Linked DNA regions of Homo sapiens. The protein of the gene in region 1 interacts with the protein of each later gene in a pairwise test. Each region holds a gene or a part of one and is shown on either strand. Other genes may lie near its edges.

Region 1 (8,003 bases):
CATACTTGTATTTACCCATAGAATATTTGGCCTAAATATCTTAGGACAAAAGCTCAATATATAAAAACAGATAATACCAGAGTTTTCCAGTTAAGTAGGGATGAGAGATCCAGAGTTGTTCTTCCACATTGCCCCCAACCAGTAATCCCTGAGAAGGTTCTACCAGACCTTCATTTGAAAACTACAATATTTTAATTGTTGTTGTTTTGTTTTTTTCAGATGGAGTCTTGCTCTGCTGCCCAGGCTGCAGCACAGTGGCATGATCACGGCTCACTGCAACCTCTGCCTCCTGAGTTCAAACAATTCTCCTGCCTCAGCCTCCCGAGTAACCGGGATTACAGACAGGCACACGCCACCATGCCCGGCTAATTTTTGTATTTTTAGTAAAGATGGGGTTTTGCCATGTTGACCAGGCTGGTCTCGAACTCCTGACCTCAGGTGATCCATCCGCCACAATCTCCCAAAGTGCTGGAATTATAGGTGTGAGCCACCTTTTCTTCTTAGCCTGGCCTTTTTTTTTTTTTTTTTTTTTTAAGACAGTCTCACTCTGTTGCCCAGGCTGCAGTGCGATGGTGCGACCGTGGCTCATGGCAGCCTCGACCTCCTGGGCTCAACCGATCCATTCACCTCAGCCTCCTGAGTAGCTGGGACTACAGGCACACACCACTGCGCCCAGCTAATTTTTTTTTATAGAGATAGGTCTCACCACATTGCCCAGGCTGGTCTCAAACCCATGGGCTCAAGCAATCCTCCCACTCTGGCCTCCCAAAGTGTTGGGATTACAGGCGCATATTTCAATTTTAAGATGCACATGGTTTTCATATTTTAACATCTCTGAAATCAGGATGCATGTTTCAGTCACTGGCATCTTGGTATTATGTCATAAGCAATTTTTTTTTTTTTTTTGAGACAGGGTCTTGCTCTGTCACCCAGGCTGAATGCAGTGGCACAATCACAGCTTACTGCAGCCTCAACCTCCCAGGCTTAAGCAATCCTCTGGCCTCAGCCTCCTGAGTGGCTAGGACTACAGGCACATGCCATCATGCCCGGCTAATTTTTAACTTTTGTAGGGTCTCACTATGTTACCCAGGTTGGTCCCGAACTCCTGAGCTCAAGCGATCCTCCAGCCTCAGCCTCCTGAAGTGCTGGAATTACAGGCATGAGCCACCATGCCCGGCCTGTCACATTTTTTCTTAATATATACAATAAGTGATATGTCCCAATTAATAAGTGTCTTAGATTAGATGAAATCTGAAAGTAACTCCTCAGTTGGCCTACAGTAATCTTCAGAGTGACTTTTCCAGTCTTATTTCCTACCCCCAACACACATAACACAGAAAGTACATCCTATCACAAAAATGACTTACTCCTTTCCCTTATCACCATACTTTCAGGCCTTTGTGCCTTTGCACATGTTCCTTCTTTCTGTCCCTCCCATTTATTCCTCAAAATCCTATCACCTCCTCTGGGAAGCCTGTCCTGAATCCCTCTGCTCTTCTGGCAGTTAATTAATCCCTCTCTTTGGCTGGAGACTCATAACTCTGTAATGTGACTGCTACTATTAATACTTACATCTATTGCTTTGCTTTGTCTTCCCTCTAGACTTCAGCACAGAAACTGGATCATATTTATGTTTGAAGCTCGAGCACTTAGGATATATAAGACACAATAAACATACAATGAAAGAACTACTGAGAACATTAAGTCAGGGGATGCTTACTGTTTGAGTACATCTTACCTTTTCTGTAGGATAGGCACCAGCTTGAACTTTTTGTGTCAGTGATTTCACTTGTGCAGTTACAGCCATCACCTGAAATTAGCCCAAATAAAACAAGTGATTAGATTATATCAAATTATGTCTGCAAACTGTGAAGAGCAAAAGCTAAACAATGCCACCTAAAAATTATCTGAAACACTGTCTAAAGTATAGTACTATCTTCTCACTTCTCGGAAAGCATAGGAGAGATGGTTCTTCAAAAAGTTTAAAAAAAAAAAAACTTTCCACTTCTTAAAGAAGAGACCATCTTTTACTGAACCACAGGGAGGAGAAAAGGACTGAGAGAGTAGTGACTGAAGCACTGTAATTTTGTTTGTACTAGTTGAACTTACAATGCATAGAACTACATAACTCCCCGACTTATGACTTAATTTCCACTTTACGAGGGTGTAAAAGAAATATGCATTCGGTAGAAACCGTCCTTTTCTCGTGATGCTGGGCAGCGGCATCAAGCCTAAATTTCGACTTATGAGGTTTTCGAATTACAATGGGTTTATCAGGCCATAACCTCCATCGTTAAGTCGAGAAGCATCTGTATATAAGTGTGTATTACCTGGGCACCCAAAGGGCAAGTCATGTTACCATTCCAAGCACTGGTTTCCTTAGCTATATGAATAAAGGAAAACTATTCATATAATTTCTTTTTGGAGTTTCTTGTATTCCCTTGGGTGCAGAATCAATTACTTAGAATTCTGGCGTGAAAAGGTTTTGATTACATCATTTTACTCTAAGGTTTTTGGAAGCATTCACGTATCTCAATCACCAAAGTTTTGAGGTGAAGTACACAAACTCAAAGCCAATCCGTGACTAATTTATTCCAGAGGCGACACTACTCACTTGCTCCTGGAGATTTTTCAGAAGTGTCACGGCACTTGGCAGGTCGGACTCCAGCACCCCCTACAGAAGGGAGAGGAGGCGTAAAGAAAAGTCATTCTTTCCTCAGGATTATAGGAAAGTGGAACGTCTAGGGTGGGAAACTGCCCTCTCTCCGTCAGACACCCAGACTCGGGGCCTTCACACTCGGGTTCACAGACTCGCCTTAAAGCCAGCCCCTTGGGTTACCGGACAGGAACGGTAACTCTAGGGAGGCCGCCTCCCTGAAGCAACTTTCATCACCACCCTTCCCTGGTACCAACAGTTTGCCTCCAGCCGCTGAAGGCAAAGGACAACTCCACAATAGCTACGCGAGGAAGAAACCACACCAAACTCACCAGCGCCGCCATCTTCGCAAAGCCCACCCCTTCCGGTGTCGTACTTCCTGAGCGCTAAGGGCGACTTGATAGATTTGATAGACAACTGCCGCTTGCAAATCTAAGCCAATACGAATAAGGGCTTTCTCACTTCCGCCCCCAACAGGATAAACGAGAGGAGGAGTCTGATCTGGCCAATGGAATAAAGGAACTGGCTAAATTCGTCAGACTCAGAAAGAGTCGTCAGGACGAAAAAAAGCACTTGGCAAAGAGCGTGTGATTGGTAGACTGAGTAAAATGATTGACGGCAAGCCAATAAGAGACAGTCAAATAATTGATTGACAGTTGGAAGGACCAATAGAAAAAAGGAATTAGCAGAGCGAACTTAGCGCGTATTGGCTCCCGTCTGCCGCAGCACCCAGAGTCTTTTTTCACGGCACTTTTCTTGTAGTGCGTGAACCGGCCGCTAGGTGATGGGCCTTGGCTTGGCTTTGCGGTGTCGACATTGCAGAGCCGCCATTGCTGGCTGCTCATCCAACGGCCACCGCGCCAAATGCCTTACAGACCCGGTGGCCCTGGAATCGATTCTGTAACACTACTCCTTGTGTGACCGTGGACAAGTCACTCGGTCTCTGAGCCTTCTTCATCTGTAAATAAGAGAGCGAGGCTAGAGAAGCCCAGAGCCAGAGTTTAGAAACCGAGTGCGAGGACACCTGCCCTCTTGGTGTGCACTGTGGAGCGCTGAGAAACGGCTCCAATAACGCCCCGACACTCTTCGCTCCTACCAGTTTGGGGACATGAAAAGAATACGTTTTACAAATTGGGGAACGGTTCATATTTACATGACTTACCGCGGTCACACAGGTCTTCAGCAGAACTTGGTTCAAACTCTGGCAGTGCATGTTTCAGTATAACCTGCCTCATCATTACCCAGTGCTTTCAGATGTGTTCTCTCACTCTGGTTTTTCACAAGCTGGTGAAGTAGGTTGGACGGATACTCATTGTTCCCATCCCATGCCTTAGGAAATAAAGCACCGAAAGGGTGAATGATAGTGTATAATTTTTTGTTCACAACTCGTCCAACAGAGCTGGGTCTAGAAATCAGATCTTACCGACTTGAAGCTGTCTTTTGGAATTAAGAATAACACCTGTATCTGGGCAGGTGAGGTAAGGAAATCCTGGTATCTAGATCTTGCTGGATTCAAGAAGGCAGGAGGGTGTTCAGTCCCCACTCCTCTAACATTTAATTTGCTGCTTCAGGCCCACTGTGGAAGCTCAGGATGCTGTTGCAGCATACTTAGTCAATTATCCAGTAGCTTTTGTAATGTTTTATCAAGATTTGTATTATGAAAAGTTTCTATTTCTACATAAATTTTCGGACCTGTCTAATTAGATCAGCAATAAACTTTTCCTTTTCGGGGAATTTGAAATTTAGTTTGTTCATATGCTTTATGATAGCAATGAGAAAACAAATTGCACTGCCATATTTTGGGTTTTTTTGAGACCGAGTCTCGCTCTGTTGCCCAAGCTGGAGTGCAGTGGCGCGATCTCGGCTCACTGCAACCTCCGCCTCCCGGGTTCAAGCGATTCTCCTGTCTCGCCCTCCCGAGTAGCTGGGACTACAGGCACTTGCCACCACGCCCGGCTGATTTTTTTTTTTTTTTTTTTTTTTTTAGTAGAGACAGGGTTTCACCATGTTAGCTAGGATGGTCTCGATCTCCTGACCTCATGATCCACCCGCCTCAGCCTCCCAAAGTGCTGGGATTACAGGCGTAAGCCACCGCGCCCGGCCTTTTTTTTTTTTTTTTTTTTTGAGCGGAGTCTCATACTGTTGCCCAAGCTGGAGTGCAGTGCCGCGATCTTGGCTCACTGCAACCTCTGCCTCCCTGTTCAAGCGATTCTCCTGCCTCAGCCTCCTGAGTAGCTGGGATTACAGGCACCCGCCACCATATCCAGCTCATTTTTTGTATTTTTAGTAGAGACGGGGTTTCTACTAAACCATGGTTGGCCAGGCTGGTCTCAAACTCCTGACCTCACTATCCACCTGCCTCGGCCTCCCAAAGTGCTGGGATTACAGGCATGAGCCACTGCTCCCGGCCTTGATTATTAAAATAATTGTCCACCAGGAACGGTGACTTGAACCTGTAGTCCCAGCTACTCTGGAGGCTGAGGCAGGAGAATCACTTGAGCCCATGTCAAGGCAGCAGTGAGCCATGATCGTGCCACTGCACTCCAGCCTGGGTGACGGAGCAAGACCCTATCTCTAAAAAAAAGGTGAAAGAGGGAGACCCCATCTCTAAAAAAATAAAATACTTGTCAACTATAGGGGCAGAAAAGTGTGATACCTTTCCTCACCCATCATAAGGGTCATAGAAGACACTCCTATAACAAAAGAAGTTAACAAGAAAAAAGTTTGATGAATTTATTGAAAGTTTTACATGACACGGGAGCCTTCAGAAATGAAGATTCCATTTTTATGGTTAGGTTTGATGAAGAATGGACAGCGTGTAGAAATGTGATAGGACAAAAAGAGTATGATCTGACAGAACTAGACTGAGGGGGGAATCCCAGCAAGGCCTGTCTGTTCAGATTTTTCTTAGCCTCTCTAGATAGCAATCCTTTGGGGTATAGGGAATGCGAAAGGAAAATAACTTGGGACCCCAGTTCACTATGCCAAAAGAAAAAAATTAAGCTCAACGGAGTCATGCAAGCAACTGCCTTTGCTATTGTTCCTAAGCGGATAGCTACAGATAAAATGTTAAATATCTCTACAAGTATTTACTGTGTGTTCACCTTATCTTGTGTGCCGATTTACTGAGCCTGAGACAAATACCAATTGACTATTCCCCTACCTGCTCCTTTTCTCTTGCAACATGTGGATTAATGTACCCTCCCTCTTTCTCCTCCAGCCTACTTTTCCCCTTTTAATAGTGAAGCCCTGAAAGTCATCTTTGGAGAAAGGCACAAGCCTCACTCCCAGACACGTCCTTAATCTTGGCAAAATAAACTGCTAAATTGATTGAGACCTGTTTCAGATACTTTCTGGTTTACAGGGAGGACCCCTCCAAAATGAGGATTTATGACTGACCATCAAATGAGGAAGTCAGAGAATATTTTTTACGGCTAGCTCCTAGCAGAAAGGTGAGAGAAATTTAGAGTAAAATTTTTAGGTTTTATGGCTGGTTTGGGGGACAGAGCTTCCAGTTTTTTTGTTGTTTTGTTTTTGTTTTTGTTTTTTTTGAGACGGAGTCTCGCTCTGTCACCCAGGGTGGAGTGCAGTGGCGCGATCTCAGCTCACTGTAACCTCTGCCTCCTGGGTTCAAGCGATTCTTCTGCCTCAGCCTCCCAAGTAGCTGGGATTACAGGCATATGCCACCACGCCCAGCTAATTTTTGTATTTTTAGTAGAGATAGGGTTTCACCGTATTGGCCAGGTTGGTCTCGAACTCCTGACCTCGTGATCCACCCACCTCGGCCTCCCAAAGTGCTGGGATTACAGGCATAAGCCACCACACCCAGCCCTGGGGTTCCAGTTTTTAAAACCTGCATTAGGGAAGACGAATTCTAATTTTTTTTTTCTTTTTTTTTTTTTTTTTGAGACGGTGTCTTGCTCTGTTGCCAGGCTGGAGTCAGTGGCGCGATTTCAGCTCACTGCAACCTCCACCTCCTGGGTTCAAGCAATTCTTCTGCCTCGGCCTCCTGAGTAGCTGGGATTACAGGCATGCGCCACCACGCCTCGCTAATTTTTTTTTGTATTTTTGGTAGAGTCGGGGTTTCACCACATTGGCCAGGCTGGTCTCGAACTCTTGACCTTGTGATCCACCGGCCTTGGCCTCCCAAAGTACTGGGATTACAGGCATGAGCCACCACGCCCGGCCTTTGTTTTTTGTTTTTTAGACAGATTCTCGCTCTGTTGCTGAGGCTGGAGTGACTGGAGTGCAATGGCACGATCTCTGCCCACTGCAGCCTCTGCCACGATGCCCGGCTAATTCTTGTATTTTTAGTAGAGATGGGGTTTCGTCACATTGGCCAGGCTGGTCTCAAACTCCTGGCCTCAAGTGATCTGCCCACCTCAGCCTTCCAAAGTGCTGGGGTTACAGGTGTGAGCCACCACGCCCAGCCAGAATTCTAGTTTCTATGGCTTGCCTTGCAGCAGAAGGAAGGGCAGCAGACAAGAGGGCAGGAGAAGGTCAGAGAAAGACTTTGCTTCTGAGGCTGCTTCTAAGGCCTTCCAATCTCCTTTAGTTCAAAGTGCTTAGCATGCCAAAGTGCCATACTCTGGAGTATCGTTTTCTGAGCCCTGACACAATCATTCCTTTTGTTACAAGAGAATCTTGGAGCTAACAGTACAATAAATCTTTGTAAAGCTCTTCTACCACTCAACCAACAAGCATTGGCAAAGAATACAAGATCATTAAATTTATTGTCTTCTATTTCTTTCAACAGTTTCATAAACTGGCAATCGTCCATAATATTTCAAGTATATACTGAGAAAAGTTTTTAACAGCTATATTGAGATTTAATATACATATCATACAATTCACTATTTAAAGGATACAGTTCAGTGGGGTTGGGCATGGTGGCTTGCACCTGTAATCCCAGCACTTTGGGAGGCTGAGGCAGGAGGATCACTTGAGGCCTGGAGTTTGAGACCAGCCTGGGGAGCATAGTGAAACCCATCTCTACAAAAAAAAAAAAAAATTGTTTTGATTTAAAAAATCATAGAATTCAGTGGCTTTTAGTATATTCACAGAGTTGTGCAAATATAACCATAACAATTTTAGAACATTTTTACAATGTTCCAAAAAAAACCCAGTATCCATTAGTAGTCACTTCCCCTTTTTTTCCCAACCCTCTAACCCTCAGCTCTAGACAACCACTAATCAACTTTGTATCCCTGTAGCTTTGTCTATTCTGAACATATCCTTAATGTGGAATTATGTAATGTGTAGTCTTTTGTGACTGGCTGCTTTCACTTAGCATAATGTTGTCAAGGTTTATCCATATTGTAGTGTATATCACTACTTTATTCCTTTT
Region 2 (6,990 bases), on another chromosome or scaffold:
TTGTATCAGATACTTGTAATACATAGTTAGAGGTGGTCCTTTTCAGTTTCATTTCATTTCCTATAGATAATCCGGCTTTCTAATTTGGTAGTTTGAAAGATAATGTAAAGGCTTTCTAATTTGGTGGTTTGAAAGATAATGTAAAATGAATGTATAGTACAGCTAGAAATGAAATACTTTAATCCCTTTCACAGAACTGATATGAAATTGTTGTTTTATAGTATTTGTTACCTTTGAAGTTCCCCAGAAGGAAAACTATTTTGCCTGGCACAAGATACATATTAAGTTTCTCTGAAAGATGAACAAAAATAACTAATATCAAAATCAAATTTCAACTCAAAAGGTTCTAAAAGTAGCTCGATTCTTTCCAGTCCTTCATTAGACTTGGAAGAAATTTGAATATTTTATCTACTATGAAATATTCTTGTGGATGTGTGTGTGTTTCAGTATCAGATGCTATTAGAGTTCCAGGATTTCTTTTCCATATCACCTAGATTTCACTCTGGATTATTTATTTCCTTATTTAAAAAGTCAAAGGTTTGACATTAAATGGTATATAATTTCCAGTGCTGTTTTCAAATTTTGTTAAGACACAGCCAAGTTTATCTTTCCTGCAGAGAAGGCTTTAAAATAAGCAATATTTCACTGCATCCATATGATGGCTTATCTAATGGGGGAGGAGGCTATCCGGGAGGAATCTGGCAGTGTTCTTTCAGAAATAAAAATGTATGAAATACAGAGGAGACTTTTGAAACTCCCAGCCTCTGCATGCAGCACATTTCTTTATTTGCTTTATATGCAATCACTGGATCGGCTTGTTTTTACCTTTTTAGCATTTATACACATTAAATCCTAGCTAACTTATTCATTATAGCCTCTACTCCCTAGCCCCCTTTAAAGACATTCATTTAAATGAACTGCGCTCACTGGGAAGCTGCATTTTCCTATCAAGGCTGCTGAATTATTTAGCAGCTTTATTGTGCAATCGGGGTATTTGATAAGAAGCGTTTTCGAGTTGGGCACACGATGTGGATTCGATTCTTCTAACAACGTGGTTGTGGCGCAGTCTCTCCCCTCGTCGCGGGATTCAGAATCCTGGCGAAAACCCGAACAGGTGGCAACGCTCAGCAGTCAAATTTGGAGCCGAAGGCCCCAAGGAGGAGGCCTGGAAATGTCAGGGCCTGTTCTCCTTCCCATCAGTGCTGTGCCGCCCACCTCTGGCCCCGAGGTGCGGGGACGTGCGGCACCATACCTAGGCGGAGCTCCCGCAGGAGGCGCAGCAGGAGGGAAGCGCCACTGCAGTCCCCTCTCGCCTGGGAGGGCAGCCTGGTTTCTCCCTGTGGCCATCTTAAAGCCACCACCTCTGTGCCTCTCGCCACCTGCCTTCAGGGTTCCAGCAGCAGGGAGCCACCATCTGCTCTGGCGAGGGAGCTGAAGCTCACCCACCCAACTTCTCCGGGCTGGCTGCCGCTGGTAAGCTGCTCTAGGTGAGGCACTTGGGGAAGTATTACCTGTGGAGAGCCAGGATAGGCATTGCCAGGGCTGGCACCTGAGGGTGGACAGCATCTGAAGAGAGGCAAGTGGGAACTTGGTTTTCCCAAACTCTTGAAACTCCTTGTCAAGTGAGCAGACAGTTGTTTGGGACAATTGGAAAGTGTCACCCCTTGCCCATCCTCTGCTGTGCCTAATCGCCTGCCACTTTGCAGCCCTTGGAGGGCAGGGAGAGGGATTGTGGACTGGGCGCCCCTCCGCCTTCTCTGGAGAAGGCCATTCTGTTAGGGAACTGCTCACCCTTATTCTCCTCTCCCTGTTCCTCTCATCTGCTCTCATCTCTACATCAGTCAGAGGTTGAAACTCCTCGCCACAGTCCACTCTCCATCTCCATCCCTACCCCATCAATAAGCCCTTCCCCCACCATCTCAAGACACTGGAATGCAGGTAGGGAGAGGCCCCCAGAGGGAGTATTTGAGAATTTGCTCCCCTGTCCCTTGCCTCAACTACTCTCAGTTGCATCTTAATTCCTAGAATTACTTCCTCTTCCCTCCACTCCTGGAGTCCTCTTTCTACCTTCAGTATAAGGTCAGGCAAACATTTTGGGGGGCCCTGGGATGTGTGTGACAGTAGAACGGTCTTGATTCCTTGCTAAAATGGCTTCCCAAGTCAGTAGGGACCAGGACAGAGAAGGGAGAGTAAGTAAACAGGTCTATGGCATTTTCTGCTGAGTGTTTGCCCAGCACAGCCCCCAAATTGACCAGCAGTGTCCTGTTTGCATGACAGCTTAGAGGTGGTCTCTGCAGTGACTCACCTCCCTTTCTCTTTTCTTCCTTCTCTTTACCTCAAAGGCCAGGTTTCTAAGCATTGTAAGTACCCAACATAGCAAGGGGATAGGATTGCAGGAGGTAGTTTCTTAAATGTGGGGTGGGAGAAACATTTTTGTCCTTTGAAGCCCCATGGCACCTTGTCAAGGAGCAAGGAACACACTTTTGCTTGGGAGGCCCGGACACAGGCACAAGACTGCAATTATAGAGGATAAACGAAAAACTGTTCTCTTAGGCTAAGCTCTCTTATGGATGGTAAAAAGCCGTTTTCTTCTCCTGAGTGCCCTGCCTAGCCTGGCATTCTTTTCCTTCCATGTCTGAGGGGGTTTACCCTCAGACAGGTTCTCCTTCCCCTCTGCAGCCCTGGTTGTCTTCATTCTTCAAGGGCCACTTTACAGGGACATGGAACAGGCTCCACTAAAGTGGTGTCCTCTTATTGCTCTTGGCCCTGAGGACATATGAAGATTGTGAAAGTCAGAGATCCTCTCTTCCCTTGGTTTTCATGGGAGACAGTAGAGAGCTGAGGGTTCCCCAGTTGTTCAGCTGTGGGATCCAACTGGCCCGGGCTGTACCCAAGGGGCACTGCCACAGTGCACCACTAACATCTCTTTTCTGGATCCTTTTGAGGCAGATTCTGTTTAGAGGGGTCTAGGTCTCTACAGGCAACCTCCAACAGATACCATAAGAATAGACCACTTTGTAGTCACACTTATCATCCCTTATTGCAGTTTCTGTTTACATGTTTGTCTACCCTCCTAGGCTGATTACCGTGGGGGGGAGAATCCAACTTACTTATCTTGTATCTTATCTAGCAGTGCCTGCCACATAGTGGGCAGTCAGGGAATGCTTGATGAAGGAAAGAGGATGTAAAGCGATTGTGTCTTTCCGTGTGCGGGGTGCAATTACATTTATACTATTAAGTCTTTATATTTTGAGTCTGTCCCTCTAACGGTAGACCTGTATTTTTCTGCATTTGTGCACCTGCTTAAGCTGCCTGAGCATGCCCTCATCTCTGAACAGCAAAGATAATCAATACCGAGGGGTATGCAGTGGAGTAATCCACACCCCACCCCCTTTCCCTTGCTCAGGCAAGGGTACTTAGAGACGCTACTGAAACTATCTTTAGCCACAGCGATTCCTAAGTATTCCCATTAAGAAAGACGCCAGCAGTCCGCCACACACTTACACGTGCATATCCCTGACATAGGATTCCCAAATCCTGGCCGCTGAAGGGCGGGAGGCGTGTGCCCGGCCTCAGACTACTATAAATTGCGAAATGACAAACCTGCTTTGGGTCCCAGTCTCTGCGTGCCCGAGTGCGCACCCGCGATTCGAGCAGCTTAAGCCCTACTCCCTCCTCCTTCCCAAATCAGCCACCGTGGGCCACGGCTACGCTATGCTTTATTCCTAAGCGAATCTCGCACAAATCTCGAGGCATATTTTGTACAAGGGGACACTGGCCGCGCGCATCGCAATCGCATCTCAGCGACAGAAGCGGTCACGTGCCTTGGCGCGCTTCCGCACCGCCCCTTCCCGCGCACTCGCACGCGCACGCGCACACGCGCCCATACGGCTCCAATCCCTTCAACCTTCTGCGCGCTTCCGCCTTCATGCTAGCAACGCCCGCAGTGACGCGCAGGCCCCGCCCCCTCCCGCGCGCCTCCCGGAAGTGGCCGGTCCAGAGCTGTGGGGTGGCCTCCGCGCGGTCTCTGGCGGAGTCGGGGAATCGGATCAAGGCGAGAGGATCCGGCAGGGAAGGAGCTTCGGGGCCGGGGGTTGGGCCGCACATTTACGTGCGCGAAGCGGAGTGGACCGGGAGCTGGTGACGATGGCGGGGCCGCAGCCCCTGGCGCTGCAACTGGAACAGTTGTTGAACCCGCGACCAAGCGAGGCGGACCCTGAAGCGGACCCCGAGGAAGGTGAGGCCGGACTGGGGCAGGCCACGTGCGGAGCGGTGGGCCAGGCCCTGTGGGGCAAGGGGGCGGCGTGGGAGGGGCGTGCGCGAGGCCGCCGGGCCTGCGCTCCTTCGCTTGGCGCAGAGGAACGTCGCCTCCCGCGAGGGTGGTCCCGGCCTCGGGAGGAGGGCTTCGGCTTCTTTTCACACGCACTCGAAACTTGGTGCTCGGCTGGATGGGCGGAACAGATCGAGGGCTCAGGCCGAGAGGAGCTGGTCTTCAGGTTTACTTGCTCCAGGCCTGTTGGAGGGAGCCAGAGAGTCTGCTAGCAAGTTGGAAGTTAGCTTTGAGGATGCCCTTTCTGGTATTGCGTTAGAAAGGAGGAGAAGAAAGTCGCATGTTTTTAATTCAGGTTGCCCTTCAAAACTAAGTTGGAGACTGATGGAAGGATTTTCTGGTGCTGTTTAAGTCTCTTGAAGTCTCAAGACACTTGTTCAGTGGCTGACGACTGAGACTCCTGTTCTGTAAGCTGATGTTCAGAGTCTAGCTGGGAGTAATCCCGCTTTAGACTTGAGTCGGAAGTGTGAGAAAGGGATAATAAGGAGGGATAAATGCGAGTGCTGAACCGTATCTTAGGAAGATCAGTTGAAGAAACTCGGGACTGTTTAGCCAGAATAAGCAAAGAAAACTCCCCAAAGAATGGGACAGAGTGAGGGGAGAACGTGATGACTGATTTAAGATATTGGAGCGACTGTCACACATTGAAGAGGAATTCAACTAGTTTGATAGGATCCAAGTCATAGAAATAGATCCCACTAGTAGATGCCAGGAGTCAACTTTCTGTTTAGAAACAGCAGTAAGACAGTGTTCTACTTTGGGAGAGAGTGAATTTCCTATTCCTGGAAGTTGGTGGGGATTTCGTAAAGGACGTTCAACTATGAGATAAATGGGTCGACCAGGGTTCCCGTTAAAGTTTCTGCTAACCTGGAGATTCTGTTTACTTTTCCCTCTCCCCCGACAGCCACTGCTGCCAGGGTGATTGACAGGTTTGATGAAGGGGAAGATGGGGAAGGTGATTTCCTAGTAGTGGGTAGCATTAGAAAACTGGCATCAGCCTCCCTCTTGGACACGGACAAAAGGTATTGCGGCAAAACCACCTCTAGAAAAGCATGGAATGAAGACCATTGGGAGCAGACTCTGCCAGGATCGTCTGGTGAGTAGACATTTTTGAATGGAACTCTTCTCTTCCCTAATTTTTTCAGGGTTAAAATCCTCCGGTCATCCCCCATGATCTTTGCAAGAGTAGTCTGCGGATCTTTTTTTTGAGACAGAGTTTGGCTCTTGTTGCCCAGGCTGGAGTGTGATGGCGCCATCTCGGCTCACCGCAACCTCCACCTCTGGAGTTCAAGCGAGGCTCCTGCCTCAGCCTCCCGAGTAGCTGGGATTACAGGCATGCACCACCACGCCCGGCTAATTTTGTATTTTTAGTAGAGACGGGGTTTGTCCATGTTGGTCAGGCACCCCTATCTGTTATCTTAGGAGAGACCATTGATTTGGTATTAGAAAGGGTCTTAGAGGTTACTTCATTTCACTTCATAAGGAATCTAAAGCCCAGAGTGATTAAGTTGCTATACTCCTTATGTTCGGACTAATGGCTCACCCTACAGTGGAGTGACAGAGAAGGCAGTGCATTTTGGCTACTGGAGAGGGTTATGAGCTGAAAAACCACTGTGTCTGATGAACATGTTATCCTTGAATTGTGACCCCTGACCTTTGGTTTTCCAGGACTTGCATTGAAGCACTGTGTGATATTAGTTATTTGTGAAACTCATTTTTTGCCATTCTAAAAAATCACATAATCCTTCTCTTCCCTGCAAAAGAGTTAGGAGTCTGTGCGCTTATAGTTTTAAAGAATTGTAAATTTCTCAGAGTGGAAGAAGGGGCTAGATATGGTGATTATTGGGAGAATGTCATTTGTTTTCCTTTAGAAAGGTCAGGGGTGTCATGTTGAGAATCCACAGATAATATAAAAGGAACTATCATTTAGGTTATGATATCTATGATTTAGTCCTTGATGTAGTTCTGGGAGCTCCTGATAAGCTCATTTCATATTCTTTGCCTAGAGACTGATAAAGGGACCAATCATGAGACAAATATGATAATATTTATTGAGTTCTTACCATGCGTCAGGCACTGAGTTTAGCTCTATAATTTAAGTTCTAAGAGCCTGGGACACAGTAAGTCCTCAAAAAAAAAATTATAAAATTACCTGGAATTAGACAGATTTTTATAAAAAATTATCACCATTATCACTACATGTGTCACCTAATTTAATCCTCCCAATTGCGCAGGAAGTTATTACTACTTAGCCCCATTTTACAGATAAGGAAATCGAGGGGCAAATTGGTTACATAAGTTTGCTCAAGGTCATATAGTTAGTAAGTGGAAGAAACATGATTCAAATGTAGGCTGTCTGACTCCAAGATGTACACTCTAGTAAACTCTGTATGAATGTTTCTTAATCTGAGAAATGGCGTACATTCAAAGAATTTAAATAATAATTTCTGTTTACTGTTTTGGCACTTAGTTTTTGTATTTATATTTTTGGCAGCTTTGTGTCTTAAGTTTATATATACCTTTTTAAAGAAGCGCTGAAGACCTGTCACGCTTTCCTAAAATCTTTATTTTATTGAAGAAAGTTTTTGGAAACTGGTCCCTCTATCTTAGAATCATACTTGAAACACATGGGGCTTTTATGTTCTACCATGGAACAGATT

Evidence for each region. Proteins that work in one complex are often made in the same cells at the same time.
Region 2: the proteins of NGDN (region 1) and AATF interact in binary tests that used the Homo sapiens proteins (3 or more experiments, as listed by UniProt).

The regions. Positions count from the first base shown.
Region 1 is NC_000014.9:23,464,713-23,472,715, reverse strand, and holds the start of NGDN (neuroguidin), read right to left. Parts: upstream 3,014-8,003; 5' UTR 3,001-3,013; coding exon 2,989-3,000; intron 2,675-2,988; coding exon 2,615-2,674; intron 1,811-2,614; coding exon 1,739-1,810; intron 1-1,738. UniProt on the Homo sapiens protein: Part of the small subunit (SSU) processome, first precursor of the small eukaryotic ribosomal subunit.
Region 2 is NC_000017.11:36,944,980-36,951,969, forward strand, and holds the start of AATF (protein AATF), read left to right. Parts: upstream 1-3,974; 5' UTR 3,975-4,146; coding exon 4,147-4,237; intron 4,238-5,234; coding exon 5,235-5,426; intron 5,427-6,990. UniProt on the Homo sapiens protein: Part of the small subunit (SSU) processome, first precursor of the small eukaryotic ribosomal subunit.